Regions from separate parts of the Homo sapiens genome. Here region 2 is linked to region 1. A link means that fine-mapping ties the variant in region 1 to the expression of a gene that starts in the linked region. Tissue or cell type: whole blood. Region 1 holds a variant in brackets; the other region holds the start of a gene. All regions are shown on one strand. Distances are from middle to middle.

Region 1 (8,000 bases):
ATAATAATTTAAAAAAGGAATTCAAGCAGACAGATTATTGGTAGCAGGAGGCTGGAGTATACTAAGCAAGAGGACAAACAGTCACTCCAAATATCCTTCTTAACTGAGTTTGATGCCAGCAAAGCTCAACTACAAATTCAGAGGACCAGAGATGTCACTCTAAAACGCCAAACATTGAACCAGTGAGACTGACTGGCAGCAGATGGGAACAGTCATTAAGGAACTAATTATTAAGAGGCCTGATGGCAAGCTGTGTTTGATGGGGGTGGGTGGGGACAACTGGGTTTTTAATGCTATGCCTTAAATAGTATCACTGCCTGGCTGGATTTTAGAGTAGAGTATTTTTATGTTTTGGATGTTTAACTTCTTTTTACATAATTTATACTAATAATAATTATTATTACGGTTAAGGTAATGATGCCAAGTCTGTAAGCAAGCAGTATTCTTTGAAAGTAACAAAGCTAGAGCATGATGCAGAACAGGCAAAAGTCGAACTGATTGAAACACAAAAGCAGCTACAGGAGCTGGAAAACAAAGATCTTTCTGATGTTGCAATGAAGGTAAAATTACAGAAAGAGTTTCGTAAAAAGATGGATGCTGCAAAGCTGAGAGTTCAGGTAATTTAAAAAATGTAATTGAGAAAACTTATTTAAGCTTTCTTGCTTCTGAGGATTCTTGTACTGAGTTAGGAAAGAAGTGGGATTCAGTTTATACCAGCAAGAGAAACTGGGTATCAACTTTTCTTTTGTAGTGTGCTGGTCGATTTACATATTTTACAATCTGGGTAGTATATTTCTTAATTCAAGAAGTATCTTCTTTCAATCATCATATCAAAAAACCACATGGTAAGAAATAAACGTAACCACGAAACAGTGTTTATTTCTGAAGGACAAAGGATTAAATAATGATTAAATAATACAAATAAAACAGCTGGTACATATATGACACTTTGTAGACACTCAACAAATGGGAACTATTTCGAGATATGGTTTTCCCAAACCATAACTGATTGGCTTAAGAAAGGTTAATAACTTTGTGTACTGCAACTCATCCTTAACTTCCTAATGCCTGGTTTTAGCTTTAACTTTAGAAATAGCTACAGTTAAAAATTCTATTCTATGAGAAATATTCCATCACATGGAGATTTTGTGTGATGAAGCCATTTCCAGGTGCTTTGGAGATAGTCACAGTGCTTTGTTAGTCTGATCATAATGAACTTTCTAGGATGTGTCCTCTATTTCTTTATCTCTCATGGTCTACTGCTTTCTTTCATGTTATAGAAACATTTTTATATTTTTCCATTTTAGGTAGAGTTGTAATTAACCTATTCACAGCATTATTATTATTATTATTATTGAACTATGCCACAGTTATTTGCTTTAAACAAAATAGATGTTTACAATATACCTCTGGTGTGCCCGGTATATTGTAATATACCAGTATATTCTGGTGTGACAGGCCTGAAAAGTCCCTCCTGGGGTTTCTGATGCCACCTCAAACATCTGGATATTTCCACTAAAAATTGTTACCTAAATAGTTTCTCAAGTCAACATCAAGTTAAAATAATATGACTTGAATATTTGAACTGCTTAAAGGAGGACATAGGGTGGTTATCTATGTCACACCTTCCATTTTCCTTCAGCATAGTTATTTCCACTTTGGAATTCACCTTTCCATGCTTTGCTTCCTGCTGTATATCCTTTTCTGCTAAGAGTACTGATAAGGAAAGAAAATGAAAGGTGTAGAACTTTACCTCAAAAGAAACATCTGATACAGCAGAGGACAGAAAGAAGACATAGTTTTAGAAATTTTGTACCTTTGACATATCCATGCACTACTCATGGGGATAAGGATGATAAGGAGGATGAGGAGGACAGTAGTTACCATTTGAGGGCCTATACATACCAAATGGTTTATACGCATTATTTAATCCTTTGAAGTGGGCATTTTTAGCCATTTTACAAATGTGGAAAGAAAGGTTTAGAAAGGTAAAATAACTCAGTCAGAGTCCCATAGTGGTGATGACAATACCGGTTTTCAGTTCTCTAACATATCATACTTTTTTTTTGAGGTGAAGTCTTGCTCTGTTGCCCAGGCTGGAGTGCAGTGGCATGATCTCAGCCCACTGCAGTTGCCTCCTCCCAGGCTCAAATGATCCTCTTGCCTCAGGCTCTCAAATAGCTGGGATTACAGGTGCCTGCCACCACACCCGCAAATTTTTGTATTTTTAGTAGAGACGCAGTTTCACCACATTGGACAGGCTGGTCTCAAACTCCTGACCTCAAGTGATCCACCCGTCTCGCCCTCAGAAAGTGCTGGGATTACAGGTGTGAGTCACCACACCCAGCCATATCATGCTGTTTTAAAATATTGAAATACTAGTATTATTATTGGTATAAAACAGTTATTTCAATTTTTAAAACAAAACATTTTTAAATTAAAAACTTCTAAAACCTATATTTTTAATGTCTTTAGGTATATGTAGAGCGTTACATGCTGCATTAATAGTTTAATGCTGACAGATGCACTTTTGAGCAACTATGAAATAAGTGCAAAAGACAATGGCAACAGTATCTCACTCTTAAGTAAGACTTTCAGGATGTACACTGATATTTTTAATATTATGTGAAAAAGACACTAAAATGCTGGTATTATAATTTTTGCTGCAGTATTGTAATTACTGTCAATTGTAAGTGGCAAAGCCAGTGTCCAAATTTAGGTACTGGAAATGGCAAAGGCCTGTGGCCTCCAAGCCAGTGGTACCCAAAGTAGTCCATCTGCCGATTGTTCTTGTTCTGTGATGAGATAAAGGTCAGTCATTGCACAGCTTCCTTGATCAAAAAAGTCTCACATGAAAACGTCAACCGAATCTAACAGTATGCTGAGGAGTGCAAATTGACAACAATGTCTGTGAACTAGCACTGGTCCACAGATCACATTTTGAGTAGCACTGCTCTAAGCAGCAGTGCCTCTTGGATACTTAGTTTAATTAAAACAAAACTTGCCTATGCTAACACTTTATTGCCAAAATAAAGGAAATAATTAATTGTGGTCTGCATAATTTATGAATGACATCCCTTTACCTTTTTTATGCCACCTAATTGGTATTTAGTGCAATGCTAATCACATTATACAAGTTTAATACATGTTTGTTTGGTCAGGACTAAATTGTAACACAAGTATTTTATATTAGTGGTGTGAACACTTTGAAAGTCTAATGCTATCTGTACGTAATTTTAGTTAGATGAGAAGGAATTTAAGATAAATGTTAAAATAGTAATTATAATGGTTGGTCACTCTCAGGGAAGATGTTATCAGCTCTGATCATCCTAACTCAGGGATTAACGATTTAGGCTATAGCTGTAGCTATAAAAACAAGAGCACAGTAGAATGCTGTGCAGCCACCTGGAACAAATCTATATGAAAAGACCTCTGAGATAAGTAGGAAAAAAGGGAGACAGTAGTCTATATAGAATACATATGCAGCTATTTGCATGCATATGCATTGCATACATTTTTTTCTGGAAGAATATTTAAGAAATTGATAATTTTGTGTTGGGAAGCAGGACAGGTAGATTAGGGGTATATGATAAGAGTGACTCTTAAAATATAAATTCAGTTTTATACTGTTTTAACTATTTTTTAAATTAAAATACTTATTAATGAAAAGCAAATCATCTGTTTCATTTGTTTGTTGTCCACATCAGGAAGTCTCATGATTCTTTATACTTTTACATATGTGATGCAAATTATGATGGTTTCCCTAATTGCAAAAATGGAAATGTATGATAGTAAGCAATTGTTTGTAAACCTGTCAAAAATAAATGAAAATCTAGGGAAAATTTCTTCTTTTACCATCAAATGAAAAGATTAAGTTTAGTTGAGGATTGTGAGAGATTCAGTTTTTCATTTTGAAATATTCCATATGATCTCAGGTCTTGCAGAAGAAGCAACAAGATAGTAAGAAACTGGCATCACTGTCAATCCAAAATGAGAAACGTGCTAATGAGCTAGAGCAGAGTGTAGATCACATGAAATATCAAAAGATACAGCTACAAAGAAAACTACGAGAAGAAAATGAAAAAAGGAAGCAACTGGATGCAGTAATTAAGCGGGACCAGCAAAAAATCAAAGTAATATTGTCATACATTCCTGCTAAGTATAATATGAAATGTTAAACGGCTCAGAGCTAACGAATCCATGGTCTTCATTCAGTTGGCTTGTGAAGTATCTATCCTTGACCTGCCCTTCACTGCTGTCCTTATTCACTTTAAAGCTTTGTTCATCTACGTAGTAAAACCTACTTATTGAATTTTGAGTACTGTCTTGAAGGCTTTGACTTCACAAAAGAAGGTACAATGATAATTTCTCTTAGTAGGATCCTAACTTTAATTGAAGCTGTCAAAAACATACATTTATAAAGCCAACTTTCTAAATAATACCTATCATTTGAATAGGATTTTCTGTTTTCAAAGTGCTTTGACATGCGTTGTCCATGTGGCTACACAGAAAAAGTACCAGGTAAAGTGGTACCATTTCATTCACAGTGAGCAGAAAAATGATCAGACCTGTATGCACAGCAGTTCTAGAATAGATTGGGCTGGGGAAGAACTTAGTGGTGTCAGCCTAGGCTCTTTG[A/G]CCAGGCTATCATAGGTTCAAATCCTAGCTCACTCAGTTGCTGGCTGAGAGATTTATTGAGAAAATAAATTTTCTCAAATTTCTCAAAAATTTTACCCTCTCTGAGTCTGTTTATTCTCATCTAAAATGGCCTTAATCCTACTTGTCCCACAGGGCTTTTTTGAAAAAGATGATGATGATCATAATAACAGACACTTATCTAGTACTATGTGCCAGGCTCTGTTCCGTTGAAATGTTAAGCTGAACCCAAGGCATGGGACATAATTGGAGATTTCCTAGATATTTTAAAAATTAAGATTTTATTTTTTTAGAGCCGTTTTAGGTTCACAGCAAAATTGAAAGGAAGGTGCAGAGATATGCCATATACTCCCTGTCCCTGCACATGTTTAGCCTCTCCTGTTATCAGTATGCCCCAGATTTCCTAGATTTTCAACAATGGATATAACCTATTTTCCGACCTTAAAAAAAAAAATCACAGAATTCAGCAATGGAAGGGAACTTAAAGAGCATTTAAACCAAGTTACTCATTATTTATTATTAATTTTTAAGTTGTGGTAAAATATATATAACATAAAATTTACCATTTTAACTTTTTTTCCTTTTTTTTTTTTTTGAGATGGAGTTTCACTCTTGTTGCCCAGGCTGGAGTGCAATGGTGTGATCTCGGCTCAACACAACCTCCGCCTCCTGGGTTCAAGTGATTCTCCTGCCTCAGCCTCCTGAGTAGCTGGGATTACAGGCGTGCACCACCACGCCCGGCTAATTTTGTATTTTTAGTAGAGATGGGGTTTCTCCATGTTGGTCAGGCTGGTCTTGAACTCCCGACCTCAGGTGATCTGCCCGCCTCAGCCTCCCAAAGTGCTGGGATTACAGGTGTGAGCCACCGTGCCCAACCCATTTTAACTGTTTTTTAAGTGTATAATTCAGTGGCATTAATTACATTCACAATCTTGTGCAACCATCACCACTATCTATTTCCAAAACATTTTCATCACTCCAGACAGACACTCTGTAATATTATGGAATAGCTCCTCATTTTCCCCTTCCCCCAGCTCTTGGTAATCTCTAATCTACTTTCTATATGAATTTGCTTATTCTAGATACTTCATATAAGTAGAATTATATAATATTTTACCTTCTGTGTCAGCCTTATTTCATTTAGCATAATATTTTCAAGGTTTGTCTACATTGCAGCATGTACAAGAACTTCATTCCCTTTTATTGCCAAGTAATATTCCATTGTATGGATATGCCACAGTTCTTTATCCATTCATCCATCAATGGACACTTGAGTTGTTTCTACCATTTGGCTATTGTGAATAATGCTGCAGTGAACACTGGCATACAAATAAGTCTCTGTTTTCAATTCCTTTGGGTATGTACCTAGGAGTATGTACCTAGGAGTAGAATTTCTGGGTTATATGGTAAATCTGTGCTTAGCTTTCTGAGAAACCACTGTTCTCCATAGCAGCAGCATCATTTTACATTTCCACCAGCAATGTGTGAATGTTCTAATTTCTCCTCACTTTTGTCAACACCTGTTTCTTTCCTTTTTTTAATTATAGTCATCTGAGTAGGTATGAAGTTGTATCGTTGTATCTCTTTTTTTTTTTTTTTTTTTTTTTTTTTTGAGACAGAGTCTCTCTGTTGCCCAGGCTGGAGTGCAGTGGCGTGATCTCGGCTCACTGCAAGCTCCGCCTCCTGAGTTCACGCCATTCTCCTGCCTCAGCCTCCCGAGTAGCTGGGACTACAGGCACCCGCCACCACGCCCGGCTAATTTTTTGTATTTTTAGTAGAGACGGGTTTTCACTGTGTTAGCCAGGATGGATGAAGTTGTATCTCATTGTGGTTTTGGTTTGCATTTCCCTAATGACTAATGATGTTGAGCATCTTTTCATGTGCTTATTGGCTGTTCATAAATCTTCTTTGGAGAAATGTCTATTCAAGTTCTTTGTCCACATTTTAATTTGGTTCTTTGTCTTTGTTGTTGAGTTGTATGAGTTCTTTACATATTCTGACATTAAATTCTATCAGATACGTGATTTCCAAATATTTTTTCCTATTCTGTAGGTTTTCTTTTTACTTTGATAATATCCTTTGATATGCAAAAATTTTTAGTTTTGTTGAAGTCCAATTTATCTATTTTTTTCTTCTGTTGCTTGTGCTTTTTGGTGTCATGTCTAAGAATCCATTGCCTAAATCCAAGGTCATGAAGATTTATGTTTTCTGCTAAGAGTTTTATGGTTTTTGCTTTTATATTTAGGTCATTGGTCCATTTGGGGTCAGTTTTTGTATATGGTGTGAAGTAGTGGTCCACATTTATTCTTTTGCATGTGGAACTCCAGTTGTACCAGTACCATCTGTTGAAGAGACTGTTCTTTCCTCCATTGAATGGACTTGGCACCCTTATCAAAAATCAGCTGGAGTGGGAAATAGGGAAATGCTGATGGGGAAACGGGGAGATGTTGGTCAAATGGTACAAAGTTGCAGTTATGTAGAATAAATAAGTCTAGAGACTTAGTGTACAGCATGATGACTATTGTATACTGGAAATTTGCTAAGAGAATGGATTTCAGGTACTCTTACCACAAAAAAAAAGCCAAAATGCTAACTATGTGAAGAGATAAATATGTTAGCTTGACTATAGTAATCATTTCACTATGTATATCAAAACATCATGTTGTATACCTTACATATGTACAATTTTGTTTTTTTGAGACAGGGTCTCACTCTGTCACCCAGGCTGAAGTGCGGTGCCATGATCATAGCCCACTGCAGCCTCCAATTCCTGGGCTCAAGTGATCCACCTGCCTTAGCCTCCTAAGCAGTGGGACTACAGACGCACACCACCACACCTGGCTAATTTTTTTCCCTACTTTTTATAGACAGTGTCTTGCTATATTTCCCAGGCTGGTTTTGAACTCCTGGCTTCAAGTGATCCTCTGGTCTTGGCCTCCCAAAGTATTGGGATTACAGACCTGAGCCACCATGCTTGGCCCCAATTTTTATTTTTAAAAAATCAACTGGCCATAGATATATGGTTACTAAACTCTCAGTTCTATTCCATAGGTCTATATGTCTATCCTCATGCTAGTATCACACTATTTTGATTACTGTAGGTTTGTATTAAGTCTTGAAATTGGGAAGTAAGTCCTCCCACCTTGCTCTTCTTTTTCAAGATGATTTTGGCTCTTCAGAGCCCCTACAGTTTTCCATGTGAATTTGAGGATGGGCCTTTCCATTTCTGCAAAAAAGGCCATTGGAATTTTGATAAGGATTGTTGAATCTCTAGATTGCTCTGAGTAGTATTGACATCTTGACAATATTAAATTTTCTTATCCACGAGCATGGGAAGTCTTTCC
Region 2 (8,132 bases), 99 kb before region 1:
CACTACCACCATGAAATGAAAAGCTATGAAATCTTTAAAGAAACCATTTTTAAGAATTATTTAATGACAAAGAAATACATTCACATTTTGTTGGGAAAAAGAACACATATAAAATTACATACAGCTTAATCCCCATTAATTTTATAATCAGGAAAAAACATTTTTAAGAAAGCTGATTAGCATTGTATGAATGATAAACTTGGCTGACCACACTAATCTGCATTCTAGATCTGTACTGCCAGGAACTGAACAAAAGAAAATAAAGTGGGAAAATTTTATCACCTACCACGAAGGTCTAGGCATATTTGATTTACAGATTAATTTTCAGTCAGCCTCATATATTCCAATTTTTTTTTAATAAAAAGCGAGGCAGGAGTGTCATCCTTTTGGACCTTACGTGTGTCATTCTGACAATAGCTGAGACTTAAAAGCACTAACGAATATTTAAATCTACTCCACAGTTCCATTATCTTCATCTAAACAATAAAGGTAAGTCTACATTTTAATTCATTGAGGATGAGTTCAAGGTAATCCTGGAATTTTTGAGAAGATACTCCGAAAATTAGGGAGGAAAAATTTATACCGTATATGACTGAAATTAGAAGAAGTAATCAGAGGAGATTTTTATGGATCCTCCATAACCTAAAGTAAGGAAAAGACAGAAAGAGAATCTGGAACCCCATTTTGCTATGTGACCTTGGATATGTTCCTTAGCTTCTCTTAGTGCTAGTTCATTCGTTCACAAAACAAAGATAACTAACAACTTGCTCAAAGAACTCTAAAAAGTATTAAACTGCCAGCACAACGTTTAGCACACAGTGGGGAACTCAGGAAATAGTAGTTATAAATACTATTTTAAACAATAATGCAGCTGGATAGTGTACATTCTCAATTATATTAGCCCATCTAAAGTAAATCCCCCATCTAAGTAATATTGGGTCTAAATTCACTGAGTCCAAAGTGATCACTACACCATTACACCATTGTACCAATTACACAAGACTGGAGTCAATGAATGTATTGTTAAGTTCTTGAATGAACACAGGTATAAAATTATTGGGTTGAAAAGTCTTAATTTCAAACAGAGAATAAAAGGATGGAGAAAAAAGACTTTCCTGTTATTTAAAGAGCAAACCTAAAAATTAAAAAGACGTAAAGAAGAAATCAAATGGGGGGAAAAATAGCAACCATCCCACAATGGCATCTAGAGGGGATGAATAATTTACACCAGTCGGGGTCCAGTCTGGACAATGAAACTGGGAGGAAGAGGTTTTTTTTTTTGTTTTTGTTTTTGTTTTTGAGACAGGGTCTCGCTCTGTCGCCCAGGCTGGAGTGCAGTGGCGCGATCTCGGCTCACTGCAAGATCAGCCTTCCGGGTTCACGCCATTCTCCTGCCTCGGCCTCCTGAGTAGCTGGGACTACAGGCTCCTGCAACCACACCCGGCTAATTTTTTTTTTTGTCTTTTTAGTAGAGACGGGGTTTCACAATGTTAGCCAGGATGGTCTCGATCTCCTGACCTTGTGGTCCGCCCGCCTCGGCCTCCCAAAGTGCTGGGATTACAGGCGTGAGCCACCGTGCCCGGCCGGAAGAGGTTCTTATATAGGGCTGCTTACTTGTGATTCCCACTCATCATTCCTTATCAAGAAAATGATGACTGCAACATAAATCCTAATTTGAAAGAAAGCACAGCATCATCATTACCGTACCGCTATTTGTGCATATTAGTGTCAGTGACATGTCTCAGGTTTTAAATGACAAACTCAATTAAATGTTGCAAATACTAACTGGCGGATTAAATCTCTATAATCCAAGTATCCTAAGCCCCTACATAAACTCATCAGTTTTGAATATTTAATAAAATTCTGAACTTTGTGTTTTAGAACTGAAATGCGAGTTAAGTTTTACCTACCCAACAAGACTATACACTCTTCATGGTGGGGACCATTTAAAAAATTATATTATCACTTAAAGAGAACTTTTATAAATTCCACAATCCCGGACATTATGTTCTAACAGCATGTGTTAACGTATCCTCCCAGAATGTAAATACTGGTGTTTGTCATGAAATCCTCAGTGCGCCCTAACAAGAGTTTTCCTCTAATCAGTCAAGTAAAAGATGCTGGGTGGATGCAATCATGGCCATTTAAAAGAATGCTGGTATATATGTTTTGCAAATTACCCAAGAAGGAAACATTATAACAGGAATGAATCAGCACAAATTCATCAACACTAAAATATATGCATGTATTCGGCCAATGGTGGATTTCGCTTTATGTGCAGATTATGACACCTTTATGCTTCAAAATGAGTTTGGGATTGTGGGCGGAGGCTGGAAGGTTGACGAGTAAGGATGTGGAAAGCGGGTACTACCAGGGCTGGAGATTTCCCAGGGCTGTCACCGATTGAAAGTGACCTTATGTGCCTTAACAAAGGAAGTCATGAAAGCTTGGCACAGGAGCCTTAAAAGTAAGGAACCGAATACAATGCAAGTGTGCGCTGAACCCGCTAGAACAGGAGCACGTTTGAGGGCAAGGGTTTTTGTCTGTTTTCATCACTGCCACAAGGCAGGCGCTTTGAATGGAACGTGGAGGTCTGCAACGTATTCAGCGATACGCATTCATTTTAGGAGACAAGGGCAATACATATTGCCTAAAAATTTTATCGGAATAAACTACAGCGACGACACTACAAAATACTTCCATCTCAGGTCCCATTACCCAAGAGGAAAGTCTCAGAACCGAGAGCCCTGTGAAACCGCCTGTGCCCTCTCGGCGAGAAGTTCTCCAGTACTCCCAGGCTCGCCCCGCGTTTCCCCGGCTCCCGCCCCGGCGCAAGGCAGGCCGAGAACCGCCAGCTGCGCCCCCGGGCCCGGCCTTGACTGACGGGCGCCCCGGACCATTACAAACAACGGGTTTCCGAAGCGTGGGCCCGGCCCAGCGGACGCAGACGGCCCGCACTTACCGCGCCGCAGCTCGTCCCACAGCCCACAGACCACAGCCCGGGGCGGGGTAAGGGGCTTCGGGCACGAGTGTGGGCTGTGAAAACACGGGCATAAGTCTGGGCCGAGCACCGACCTGGGCGTCCCGCATTTTCCTCGCGCAACATCGGTCCCTGGGCAGCGCAACTGTAAGGACAGGAACCGCCGCGGCGCGCTCCCAGTTCCTTTTTTACCTCTTCCCGCCCGATTTGCCGCGCGCTCGCGCCCCTCCTCCAACCCCAAAGGACTCCTTCGGGGCTGGAAAACGCCCCTTCCCCGCCCCCTCCCTGTGCGCGTGAACTAGGCAGTTGTTAGATCTCGCGAGAGGTTCGCCCCCTAGCCGCCCCTCCCCCCAGCTAGTGAGTGCGCGAACGAGAAAGGAGGAGGGCGCTCCAGGCGACAGCACTGCAGACGCCATTATCCTCTGTTTCTCTGCTGCACCGACCTCGACGTCTTGCCTGTGTCCCACTTGTTCGCGGCCTATAGGTAATTGGAGTTATTGGAGCTTGGGTATTGCTGATTCGGGTAAGGGTTGGGGCTCCCTGAAAGGCTGCGTTTACTTTTCCCAAGCCCGGGTTTTCTCGAGCCCTTAGTGGCCTCCCAGCCCGAAGGGAGGCGCTGGCGGGAGGCGGGGTTGTCGCCTCCTCCGTCGCCTTGATTGACGTGGCCTCGGGCCAATCGCTTCGCCCTCGCACCATCGCTGAAGCCCTGGCAGCCAATAGGGCGCGACGGCGGGGAGGACGCGAGAAGGCGGGGGAGGGGAGCCTGCGCTCGTTTTCTGTCTAGCTCCGACCGGCTGAGGCGGCGCGGCAGCGGAGGGACGGCAGTCTCGCGCGGTGAGGAGCCGGGTTGGGGGAGCGGCTCGTGGAGGTGAGGGTCGGAGCCCAGTTTTTCCGCTTGAGGGAGGCGTCCTGGGAGCCGCTTTGGTGTTTGGCCGCTTCTCCGAGTGGGAACGTTGCCCGGTGTCCCCTCCCCCACCTCCGCCATTTCCCTGAGCGTGTATCCGCAGTCCGCGTTGTGGTCCTAGAGACTTGGGGATTCGTGAGGCATGTGCCTCTAGGATGAGCTGGAGCTATGTGGCACTGGGAACTAGGGACCTCGTGGAGGAAAGGAGGCCGGTGCGGGGAGAAGGTCGCGCCGCCGCTCTCTTTGTGTGAGCCCCGCCTCACCTTGGGTCTCCCGGCCCGGGGTCGGAGCTGGAGCGGCGGGGATGGAACGGTCAGGGCTGCCTCGATGGCTTTGTCTCGGGCAGTGGGGGGAGGATGCGGGGGATGAGACCTCGGGACCGCGTGGTGGGTGGGGGAGGGGGTCGGCGCTCGGCTCCGCCTAGTAGCACGTAGTCGCCATTACGCGGGCCGCCATTTCCTGTCGGATCCGGGTGAGGAGAGGTGCGGTGCTTCTGCTGTCGACTTTCGCTTTTTCCCGTCCTGTTACCCGGCTGTTTTTGATCTCGGTGCCGGGAGGCGGGGAGGGGAGGGCGCGTTGGCGCTCGGCCAGTGGAGCACATACTTAGCGGATTTTTGAGGCCTGGGGACTAGTGACTGCAGGACCCGAAGGGTGAACGGCAAGCGGCAACGTTATTCTTACAGATAAGCCCTGCTGTTTTTGCTTAAACTTTCTTATCCAACTCTTCTCCCACCACACCTCAGAAATTGCGTGCTGGGCCGGAAGGATGTCGTTTCAGTTGTCGTTAGGAGAGCAATAAGTCGACCAACGGTATGGGAGAATGGGAGGCATAAATGTGCCTCGCTTGTTGGCTCTTTGCTGTCTAGCCAACCTTCTAGTAGAGGCCGCTTGTCAACTCCTAGTCCCGACAAGAGGGAAGCTTAAAAAGGCTGTTTGTAGTCCTATCGACCGTTTTGGCACGTAGACACTTTAGTTTTCGTGTTACAGGCATGATTGTTGTGTTGTACTCCCTTAAGCCTAATTTAAAATAATCCGCTAGTGACTGTTAGTTTTCAAGGGCTCCATTTGTTTCGCTGATTAATAATAGACTGGTATTGTGGTAGTTTGGGTCTGGTCCTATATTAGATTTTTGGATTTATCCCTCCGGTAGATTGTTCTGGTTGTTGGATGTGTTCGCAATTGCCGTTGTATTTGTAAACTTTAGAGATGTCACATAAGATCGCTTCAAGCATGAGTCGAAAGAAATAGGAAAGCAATTGGAAGTTTTAATATAAAATTAGTTTTCCCAGTGAATAAGATGCATTGTAACTTTTCATAAATGTATGCTTTGTGGATGACATTTATCTTTTCAGGGTTTTGGGAATGTGCCGTATAAAACAATTCATTGCTGTGGTGGGACTTAATCCAGTGGCTAAAAGTTATTGTTCTAACTTAGCAAAAAATGAAACCAGGCTCCCTTGAATTTTGTATTTTTTAGGCAGTCATTTGAATTGTGAAACCCTAAAATGAAGAATCAAGTTTTAGAAACAGCTGGTTTTTTGGGTTCAAATCAGTATTCACTGTGATCGGAAACAAATATTCAGTAATAAGAATAAACAAAAGCAAAACTGATTTGTGTTGGTTCTTATAGGCTACTGCAGCACTGGGGTGTCAGTTGTTGGTCCGACCCAGAACGCTTCAGTTCTGCTCTGCAAGGATATATAATAACTGGTACGTTCTAGAAGCAATGTCTTTTTTTTTTTTTTTTTTTTACAGCTTGCTTTCCAATAAGCCAAATGTACTAGCTGCTTTATTTTTCCACAGATTGGTGTGCCCGTTTAATAAAAGAATATGGAAACTGAACAGCCAGAAGAAACCTTCCCTAACACTGAAACCAATGGTGAATTTGGTGAGAAGAAATTTTAGTTTTAACAGTATTTTTTTATCCTGTTAATAAATTGCCTTTTTCTGTTAATTATTGCCTTAGGAGTGTGTGGTGAATTTTTGGTATTACTGTTTATGTAATTCTGCGATTATCAGTAGTTACATCTTAGCTTTTATTTATGAAGTAGAAGTAACTGATTTGCATATAAAGAATTTTTCTTGCATTTTGGGATTTCAAATCCTTTGAAGTATTTTGTGGCAGTATTTTGTGTTTGGTGCATTTTACTAGATGGAAGCATAACGTTCAAGTCTGTAGCAATGCCTTTGGTCTTTTCAAAACATGCCTAAGATTAGCAACAAGTCTCTTGAAACAGAATGGAGTTACTTTGGAGACTTCGCTGCTTTCTTTGAAATGTGAACTGTTAATTTTTAGGTAAACGCCCTGCAGAAGATATGGAAGAGGAACAAGCATTTAAAAGATCTAGAAACACTGATGAGATGGTTGAATTACGCATTCTGCTTCAGAGCAAGGTATAAATTTTATTCTTGAAAATTTGAAGGTGGTTCATACTCAGGTAGAAATTAAGGTCTGGTTTGGCTTTCTAGAAAGTCAAAGTTTTACAGATTGAAGAATATAAAACATTTGGTTCTTTCTAAACAGACTTGAAGGCTCTGGTGGTTTTCTTATTCCACTAACAGTTAAGATTAAAGCCCTTGCTGTAGTGAACCGCCACTACAGGTCAAACTAGGAGGAGAGTGTGATTCTTAAAGTGTTAATAGATTAAATCTTAATTATGTGTGGACTCCTTAGGAAACTGCTTGGTTGGCAGTTTATTGTTTGATCACAGGTCACAATATGAAGGTACCTACTAATACTAAATTAATTGACTTATTTTACCAAAGGGTGCTATAAAATCTGTGCTTAGTTTTATTTTATACTTGGTGTTATTTCTGACATTGAGTACTCCAAACTATCTAGTCCTCACAGCACTTAGAATTATATTTTGATTTTTGGTTTGGTTTTGGCCTGGTCGTTTTTACAACCCCAAATAGATTTTTATTCTTATAACAAACAGGTTAGAGGATTTTTTAGCAAAATCTAAGAGCGTAGGTAGCTATTAATTTTAGGGAAAGGCAAAATAATTTTTTGTCTTTGTATCTTCTCCAGAATGCTGGGGCAGTGATTGGAAAAGGAGGCAAGAATATTAAGGCTCTCCGTACAGACGTAAGTATTAAGAGTTTAAACTACTACACGAGCAGCTTCAGTTTATATGTCTATAGAAATTTAAAGATTTACATCCTAGAAATCATTTCATAGTTTAGCTACAAAGACATTTGTAATAATTTATTATTACAGAATTGATTTCGAAGTTATCCATTCCTGTTTTAACAAAAGCCCAGATTGAGCAGGGTGGGGGGGTGGTTTCTTTCAAACCTCTTCACATTTTAATAAGAGTCCACCAAATTATTCACTTCATCAAGCAAGATAACATCTTAATTAGAAATAGCGACAAAGTGTAAAAATCCTTGATTGCACCATTTCCTGTGTGTGAATCAATTACAGTATTACTGAAAACCATTGCAGGTGGCTGGTTAAATCCAGAAAAATTTTTTTGTTTTCTTTGGGAAGAAAAATGTCCATCTGTTCTTTAACAGCTTGCACATGGAGCACAAAGAATTTAATGTTGAGGTTGCATGATTTAAATATGGGTAAAGAATAGAGTAGGCACTTAATCTTATAATTGGGAAACTGTTCGTCAATGCCTATGATTTGTTTGAGTCTTCATTTTACAGTGGGTTGACTCTTGTGATTAGACACATTAAATGTTGGCAGTGCCAGAAGTGAGCACATTTATAGGACTTGGCTACACCAAAATTTCTAAATTTTTTTTCTCATAGTGTACACATTTCTTAATGTTTTTCTTGCTAAAAATGAGGCAAATAACTTTGTGTCGAGTACTTATTTGACAGTATTTCATTTCTCTCTTGGTCGCAGATCTTTGTATGTTCCTCTTGATTACTGTAAACTGAACTTGAAAATTTGTTTAAAATTTTACAAACTTGCCTGTTAGGATCTAGGAATGCATTTCAAAACCTCCAGAAAACCAAACCAGTCTTATTAGTTAGGGTTTTTGGTGGTGTGGGAATTTTTGTTTTGTCTTTTATAAACCTCTCTCCTCTTAATCCAGATGTTCTGTATAATTATCTGGGTTATTAATTTCCCCATTTCCTCAAGAATTTCAGTAAACTTTGAGTCAGGTTTTGTGTCTACCCTCATGAGCCAGCCTGCTACTGAAACATCGTTTGTTTTTCTTAAAAAATAAAAAAGGCTAGAACCATCATTTGAGGTCCTTAATGTTAAGCCACAGTCAGATTTAGAGAAGT

The links. PIP is the estimated chance that this variant, and not a neighbour inherited with it, causes the effect.
Region 2: RMI1 starts here. The variant in region 1 is fine-mapped to the expression of RMI1 in whole blood (TOPMed, PIP above 0.99).

What each region holds. Positions count from the first base shown.
Region 1 is chr9:83,876,430-83,884,429 of GRCh38, reverse strand. It overlaps KIF27 (kinesin family member 27), which reads left to right. Exons shown (of 18, transcript NM_017576.4): 10 at 412-617; 11 at 3,936-4,133. Among named protein-coding and RNA genes, the nearest start is that of KIF27, 41 kb to the left of the region's middle. The variant A/G (reference allele first, on the strand shown) is at 4,639.
Region 2 is chr9:83,975,835-83,983,966 of GRCh38, reverse strand. It overlaps RMI1 (RecQ mediated genome instability 1), which reads right to left and starts at 3,162. Exons shown (of 3, transcript NM_001358291.2): 1 at 3,076-3,162. It overlaps HNRNPK (heterogeneous nuclear ribonucleoprotein K), which reads left to right and starts at 3,752. Exons shown (of 17, transcript NM_031263.4): 1 at 3,752-3,814; 2 at 5,515-5,594; 3 at 5,688-5,772; 4 at 6,181-6,278; 5 at 6,916-6,972. The coding sequence starts at 5,715. RefSeq lists silencers at 2,749-2,828, 3,639-3,778 and enhancers at 2,473-2,981, 3,039-3,128, 3,149-3,218, 3,349-3,408, 2,982-3,489 and 2 more.